2 linked regions of the Homo sapiens genome follow. The protein of the gene in region 1 purifies or fractionates together with the protein of each later gene. This does not show direct contact. Each region holds a gene or a part of one and is shown on either strand. Other genes may lie near its edges. The genes, in order: SLC25A51 and PCOLCE2.

Region 1 (3,824 bases):
CAAAATAAATTTTTGGGGCATGATGGCGTACACCAGCTACTGGGAAGGTGGAGGGAGAAGGACCTCTTGAGCCCAGGAAGTTCAGGCTGCAGTGAGCTGTGTTCATGTCACTGCGTTCCAGCCTGGGTGACAGAGTAATACCCTGCTTTAAAAAAAAAAAAGAACATACGATCCAACAATCCTACTTCTGGGGATATAACCAAAACAATTGAAAGCGCAGTCTCAAAGACCTTGTACACCCACGTTCACAGAAGTACTATTCACAACAGCCAAGAGGTGGAAACAATCCAAACCATATTTAAGAGTTTCAATGGGAAATAATAAAAACAACAAAAAACCGTCTAGGTCTTTCACTTGGAACAAAAAATTGCCAAGTTCCTTAAGTTTTTTTTCCCTCCTCATACTACACACATGCTGTGGTGAACTGCTCAACACTCAGGACAAAAGATGTTAAAGAGAACCATGATCACTCTCAAAGTAGAAAGCGTAGAGCTGAGGCACAGAAAGAATCAGATAGCATTAGTTCCTAAGGGGCGTATATCTGCCAGAGCCACCAATGTGTAATGAATATGGAACACACACACAACCATAATTTTCCTTCTAAGACTACAGATTAAGAAAATAATTCACACAACATGTACACAAAGATTCAGCCATCGCCCGGCCAGCCGCCCCGTCCAGGAGGGAGGTGGGGGGCAGCCCCCACCCGGCCAGCCGCCCCGTCCGGGAGGTGGGAGGCGCCTCTGCCCGGCAGCCCCTTCTGGGAAGTGAGGAGCCCCTCTGCCCGGCCGCCACCCTGTCTGGGAGGTGTACCCAACAGCTCATTGAGAACGGGCCATGATGACGATGGCGGTTTTGTCGAATAGAAAAGGGGGAAATGTGGGGAAAAGACAGAGAAATCAGATTGTTGCTGTGTCTGTGTAGAAAGAAGTAGACATAGGAGACTCCATTTTGTTCTGTACTAAGAAAAATTCTTCTGCCTTGGGATGCTGTTGATCTATGACCTTACCCCCAACCCTGTGCTCTCTGAAACATGTGCTGTGTCCACTCAGGGTTAAATGGATTAAGGGCGGTGCAAGATGTGCTTTGTTAAACAGATGCTTGAAGGCAGCATGCTCGTTAAGAGTCATCACCACTCCCTAATCGCAAGTTCCCAGCGACACAAACACTGCGGAAGGCCGCAGGGTCCTCTGCCTAGGAAAACCAGAGACCTTTGTTCACTTGTTTGTCTGCTGACCTTCCCTCCACTATTGTCCTATGACCCTGCCAAATCCCCCTCTGCGAGAAACACCCAAGAATGATAAAAAAAAAAAAAAAAATTTTATATATATATATATACACACAACTACTTTAAAAAAAAAAAAAAAAAGATTCAGCCATAAGATAGTCACAGCCAGGCTTTTAACAGCAAATAATGAATACAAATGCTCAATAGTAAAAGACACAATGTGTAAGTGAAGATGTATCCACAGGATGAGACATAAAGTTATTAAAAATAAAGAAGTGTTTAAGGTTCAGTGTAGGATTAATTTTGAATTTTTAATGGTATTTAGACGCAAAGTAAAAATTAAATAGCATACGTATGTCAGGTACCTATGTCAGGGGAGATAAGACAGGCAAATAATTAGACAACAGGGAGATAAATGAAATCATGGAAGGTATCAAGGCCCCATACAGCAGGAGGTCATTAATCAGCTGTCTGGAGAGAATGACAGGCAGGACATGACCCGTGGGCTCGGCTCTGAAAGCTGAATAACTGTCACTATGCACATAAGGGTGAAGCACATTTTAGCCAATGGAGCAGCAGAGGCTAAGGCACAGGTGTTGGGCTAAAGGAGCAGCGGCATCGCGTTCTTGGAGGTTACTTGTGTATGCCCTGCAGGGGCACAACGTAGGTAGAGAAGGATGGGTAGCTGATGAGGACAGAGAAGCCGGTTAGGACCCTCAGGAAAATCCCAAGACCCTCTGAACAATACTACATTATATATATACAATATATACAATACTACATTATATATATATATTTTTTTCTTTTTCTTTTTTTTTGAGACAGTGTCTCACTGTTGCCCAGGCTGGAATGCAGTAGTGCAATCTTGGCTCACCTGCAGCCTCAACCTCCTGGGGTCAAGCAATTCTCCCACCTCAGCCCTCTGAGTACCTGGGACTACAGGCACATGCCACCACACCTGGTTAATTTTTTTTTTTTTCTTTTAGATGGAGTCTCACTCTGTTGCCCAGGCTGCAGTGTAGTAGCACGATCTCAGCTCACTGCAACCTCTGCCTCCTGGGTTCAAGCGATTTTACTGCCTCAGCCTCCCAAGTAGCTGGGATTACAAGTGCGCACCACCATGCCCAGCTAGTTTTTGTATTTTTAGTAAAGACAGATTTTTGCTGTGTTGGTCAGGCTGGTCTTGAACTCCTGACCTCAGGTGATCCGCCCGCCTTGGCCTCCCAAAGTGCTAGGATTACAGGTGTGGGCCACAGCGCCTGGCCCAATTTTTGTATTTTTTTTGTAGAGATGAGGTTTCACCATGTTGCCCAGGCTGGTCTTGAGCTTCTGGGCTGAAGTGATCCAACTGCCTCAGCCTCTCAAGGTGCTGGGATTACAGGTGTAAGCCACTGTGCCCAGCCAAATTTTTTTGCTTTCTCTTGTGAAGCAAATGAAAGAAACTATTTTACTTAAGTATGTTACACTAAGATCTGTATATCCTTTTCTAAGAATATAGACTATGATTAAGAAAATGTAGACATCTGTACAATCTATGGCCTAACGCCTCTTTGGAGTTTGAGCTGCTTTGCTGTCATGTTCCTATTAGAAAAGATGAACTCTTTTTACCTAAGAGCAAGTTAGGACTAATGTCACTGCAGGCCCAAAGTCTACCCTAAGGAAGGTAATACAAGGAGTCAGGAAACTTCTCCCCACTCAAAGAAAGTCACTTGGTTGTATCCAGAGAGCTGGGCAGTGTCAGAGCTCAAACCTTTCACTGTCCCTCCCTGATCAGGAGAGCCATACCACCTCTAAGGTCCAAAATATTTTGTTCAGTTGAAGAAACCTGCTCTGAAAATTTGTTTCACTGCCTTTTAAACAGAGAGAAATTACTTCCGATTTTGGCAGTTACTAATGCGGTTAGATTATGAAGTCACCTGTATGCTCCACTGAGAGATGCCAGATTCCTTGGAGTTGGGCTGTTTGTAGATCCAGTAACAACAAAAAATCATTTAAATAAAAATTCACAGAAGAAACGTGTATAACCTACATGAATAGAGAAAAAAAGCTGGAAACCAATTAAACACACAGAGAGCCTCTCCTCCAGGCTCACTGGCCTACTCGGGTCTCTTCTCACCTGAACTAATGCAAGGGACCCTGCAGCAATCAGCCTGACTCTGTTCACGCTCACCCACCCCTATTCCCTGCCCTCTTCAACCTACTCGTCATTTTAAAAAGAAACACACACACACACTACTAAGTTTAAAAAGTGAGGTATGTAACAATGCATTTTGGAATCTAATATTAGCACAGAGATACCTGAGCGTTTAGAATGGTTGCACAGTACTCTATGAAATGACTGCACTGTATACAATTTATTCTACCTCCTATTTATGGTTGCTGTTTTTTTTTATGGTTTTGTATTATTAAGGTTTGGAAAACTCTGTGGACAATTCAGCTTGCCAAGTGTGTGAGTGGGTATACAAAAGATATACATTTTTAATTCCAAGACCTTCCAGAGAGTGTCTAGAGGAAAGGTCTAATTAAACCTGCCCCCACTCACCTTTTTTTTTAACTTTTTTTTTTTTTTTGAGGCAGAGTCTTGCTTTGTTGCCCA
Region 2 (3,824 bases), on another chromosome or scaffold:
TTATTCACGTGAATAGAAAATTTTGATTAAATAGGCAATCAATCATTCCCCATACAAGCAAATGTTTAAAAGAACATTTCCAACATGTGAATCAAAGGAAACCTCACTGGATTTATTATTACCTATGACAGCTGGTACCCAATCTTGCCGAGCAGCAAGTGGGCAAGAACCCTCCTTGCTACTTCAGGGAAGATAAAGGACATTAATTCCTATTAGCTAGAGAAGACTCAAACACAGTAATCCAGGTGAAGATGATAATAGCAACAGCATCACAGATGGACACAAAGGTAATTTTGGCTTTGACCATAATTTCCACACATCTTTGGACTGAACTACCTTTTAAAAAGTCAGTGCCAGTGATAGGTGAATAATGCTTATTCATACTTAAGATGGCTTTAAATTGTATTAAAATATTTCCTCTTTGGGTCCAGTGACTTCTTACCACTTACTAATAAAATGCTTTCCAGGTTATTAAAAAAATTGGCGAACTTTTTCTACTTAGAAATTAGTCACAAAGGCTGGGCGTGGTGGCTCACGCCTGTAATCCCAGCACTTTGGGAGGCCGAGGCAGGCAGATCATGAGGTCAGGAGATCGAGACCATTCTGGCCAACACGGTGAAACCCCATCTCCACTAAAAATACAAAAAATTAGCCAGGCATGGTGGCGGGTTCCTGTAGTCCCAACTACTCAGGAGGCTGAGGCAGGAGAATGGACCGAACCCGGGAGGTGGAAGTTGCAGTGAGCCGAAATCGCACCACTGCACTCCAGCCTAGGTGACAGAGCAAGACTCCGTCTCAAAAAAAAAAAAAAAAGAAATTAGTCACAAAAACTTTTGCAGAGAAGATTAAAAAAAGTAAAGAAGAAGATAAAGGAAAAGAACTGTGGTAACAAATGATGGTAAGGTAATTCTTTAATAGAAGAAAATTCCAATGAAATTCCTTCAATACAATAATTCCCTTGCATAGAAACTATTTAGGACTTAATTTTCCCATTATATTTTTCTCCTTTGAGAAACTGCCAGTGATTTCAAACACAGTGATTAAGAACTCAATTGACAGAAGCCAAAAATCACATTAAAATCAAATAAAAATCAAACTTAACATTTAAATGATCAAAGGGAAGAACAATGGAAAAGAGATGCTTAACTGTAATCTGCAAGTATAATTAAGTTGGAATTATTTGGTCAAATATATTTACAAATGTCACAGAGAAAATGATCAATATAATTTCAAGAATTACATAATGGTTTAAATGTTTCAGAAACACAATTTTTAAAATTACTTTATAAAACATTCAACAGACTTATAAAATCTTCCATTATTAAATAAATGGCCATATATTTCTTCTTAAAAATAAAACCAAGTTTTGGAATTATGATCACTGTTTATGTCTGTATATATGTGTATATGTTCAAATCACTAACTTGCATGGTATATTAGCTTAAATAATTTTCTATAAAAAAAGAAATACATGACAAATGGTATCTGTTCAAGCTATATGAAAGGTTAATTTAGAAAAGTTTTTTTAAAAACAGTATCATAATGTTTACCTCATAGTGTTTGGGTTAAAGTCTATAGTGTTTCTAATAGTAATAATTTTTATAAAGTTATCTTTAAAGGTCCACAAAGTAGATTTCATGTGTTTCTATGCTAAGTTCTTTCCTGCAATTAATATGTGAAACTGGTTCCCAGAAAGGGTAAAAAGTTGTATATGTAACCACAAATTAATAAATACTGGAAAAGTCGACCTTCTCTGTTGATTATTTCAGAACAATGAATGAAGCTTTTTGTGGGGAACCTGCACATATTTTATTTTAAATGACAACCAAAAACACCCTAAAGCAGACCAGCTTGTTCTTTGAAGAGATAATGTGGCTTGCTTTTGTTGGCTTTGTTGAGGCAAAGCATCCACACTTTTTTATTTAGTCACTAGAATAACTATTATCAGGACATGATGGGTTTGTGATGGGAGCAAATGGTAACCTGAAATGTCCATGGACCTGGGGATTTTTATCCTCCCACAGTTAGTCGCTGCTGCTTATAACATCCACTGCAGGGTTAAACAATCCTATGTGAGATCTGCTTACCATTTGTATTTTTAAAACTGTTTTGAAAATTGTCATTATATAGCAGGAAATTAAATCCATGAATTTGCAACTCAAAAAAATGCAAAGGCTAGGCCGGGCACGGTGGCTCACATCTGTAATCCCAGCATTTTGGGAGGCTAAGGCAGACGGATCTCCTGAGGCCGGGAGTTTGAGACCAGCCTGACCAACATGGAGAAACTCTGTCTCTACTAAAAAAATACAAAATTAGCCGGGCGTGGTGGCGCGTGCCTGTAATCTCAGCTACTCGTGAGGCTGAGGCAGGAGAATCGCTTGAACCCAGGAGGTGGAGGTTGCGGTGAGCTGAGATCGCACCATTGCACTCCAGACAGGGCGACAAGAGCGAAACTCTGTCTCAAAAAAAAAAAAAAATATCTGGGGTCTTCGCATGAAGAAATACCTGTGTCCAGGAACCTTCCTCTTCTTGTATCCCTTAGCTCTCGAATAGCCCCCACAACAGGAGGCTCTTGAGAGTTGGTGGGCCCCCCACACTGGGCAATTCACACATGCATGCTTTCTTCACACTTCCAGGGAATCTCACCTGATTCTTTGGGGCTACAATGTGCCACACACAAGTGACTCCTGCAGGGTAATCCCGGTCTGGCCAGTTGGGGGTTTTAAAAGAGCCGGAAGGTCTGTCAAGGAGTCCTCCACAATACTGATCCCCTTCAAGTATTAAACAAGGAAAAAAGCCCACAAGTTTATGTAGGTTACAGCAATACAACCATGTGGAGATTAGGAATGTGGGATCTTTGGTGAGAGTACAGTAAATAAAGGCAACAGCAGAAGCGCTTACATTTTCTCTTAAACATATGGTTACATACATAACCCCCCAACACACACAATGAATGATCTTTGTTACCTGACATAGCATAGCAACACGAGAGAGGGGAGAAGTGGACTCAGGGCCTCTTTTCTTTTTTTTTCCTTAGACAAGGAAGACAAAACATTTGAATATGCACTCACTCAGAAAGCTTGCAGGCTCAAAAAATCATAGAGATGTTAAGGCTCCTCAAGGCATTGGTATTTAGTAAACACCCAGGGACAAAATTTGAATTAGTTGATATAGACAGCTCTCATTACTAGAAAACTTCCCATGATATATATATAATATGTATATAATATATATATGTTTTAAGAATAAATTTTGTTTGTAAAAATAATATTTACAAATTTTCAGCAATACAGAAAGGCACAAGGAAGGAAGCAAAAATATACCCCCAAATCCCCAGTTTTAGCCACCAAAAACTCATCAAAATTAATAGGTGACAAATATCATTTCAGGCATCTGTACTCATAAGTTGCATATGTACCTGTAGGTTGGCAGAAATAATGTAAGAATTATTTTAATACGAAGTTCTAAATTTAATTTTACTTGAATGTAAATAACAAATAAAAACTGAACTGAAACTAAAATAATTATACTTCAATGGAATATTTCTTTGACACAGAATATATCCAACCATTCTTAAATCAAACTTCTAAATTTAAGATAATGTATTATAAAAATGGAGGTTGGAATAATTTCTAAATCTCCATTTAATGAAAAATTTCAAGTATATACAAAGTAAGTAGAATAATATAATGACCTCCTACATATCCATTACCCAGTTACAATAATAGTCATCATTCTATTATTCTATCTATATTGCCACCCAATCCCCACGACCTGCTTCATTGTTTTTATTATTATTATTTTACAGGTTTTGGGGAGAGAAA

Evidence for each region.
Region 2: the proteins of SLC25A51 (region 1) and PCOLCE2 purify together in Homo sapiens (affinity purification with mass spectrometry; one large-scale study listed by BioGRID and IntAct). This does not show direct contact.

What each region holds. Positions count from the first base shown.
Region 1 is NC_000009.12:37,890,547-37,894,370, forward strand, and holds part of SLC25A51 (mitochondrial nicotinamide adenine dinucleotide transporter SLC25A51), read right to left. Parts: intron 1-3,824. UniProt on the Homo sapiens protein: Mitochondrial membrane carrier protein that mediates the import of NAD(+) into mitochondria. Mitochondrial NAD(+) is required for glycolysis and mitochondrial respiration.
Region 2 is NC_000003.12:142,840,278-142,844,101, forward strand, and holds part of PCOLCE2 (procollagen C-endopeptidase enhancer 2 precursor), read right to left. Parts: intron 2,772-3,824; coding exon 2,647-2,771; intron 1-2,646. UniProt on the Homo sapiens protein: Binds to the C-terminal propeptide of types I and II procollagens and may enhance the cleavage of that propeptide by BMP1.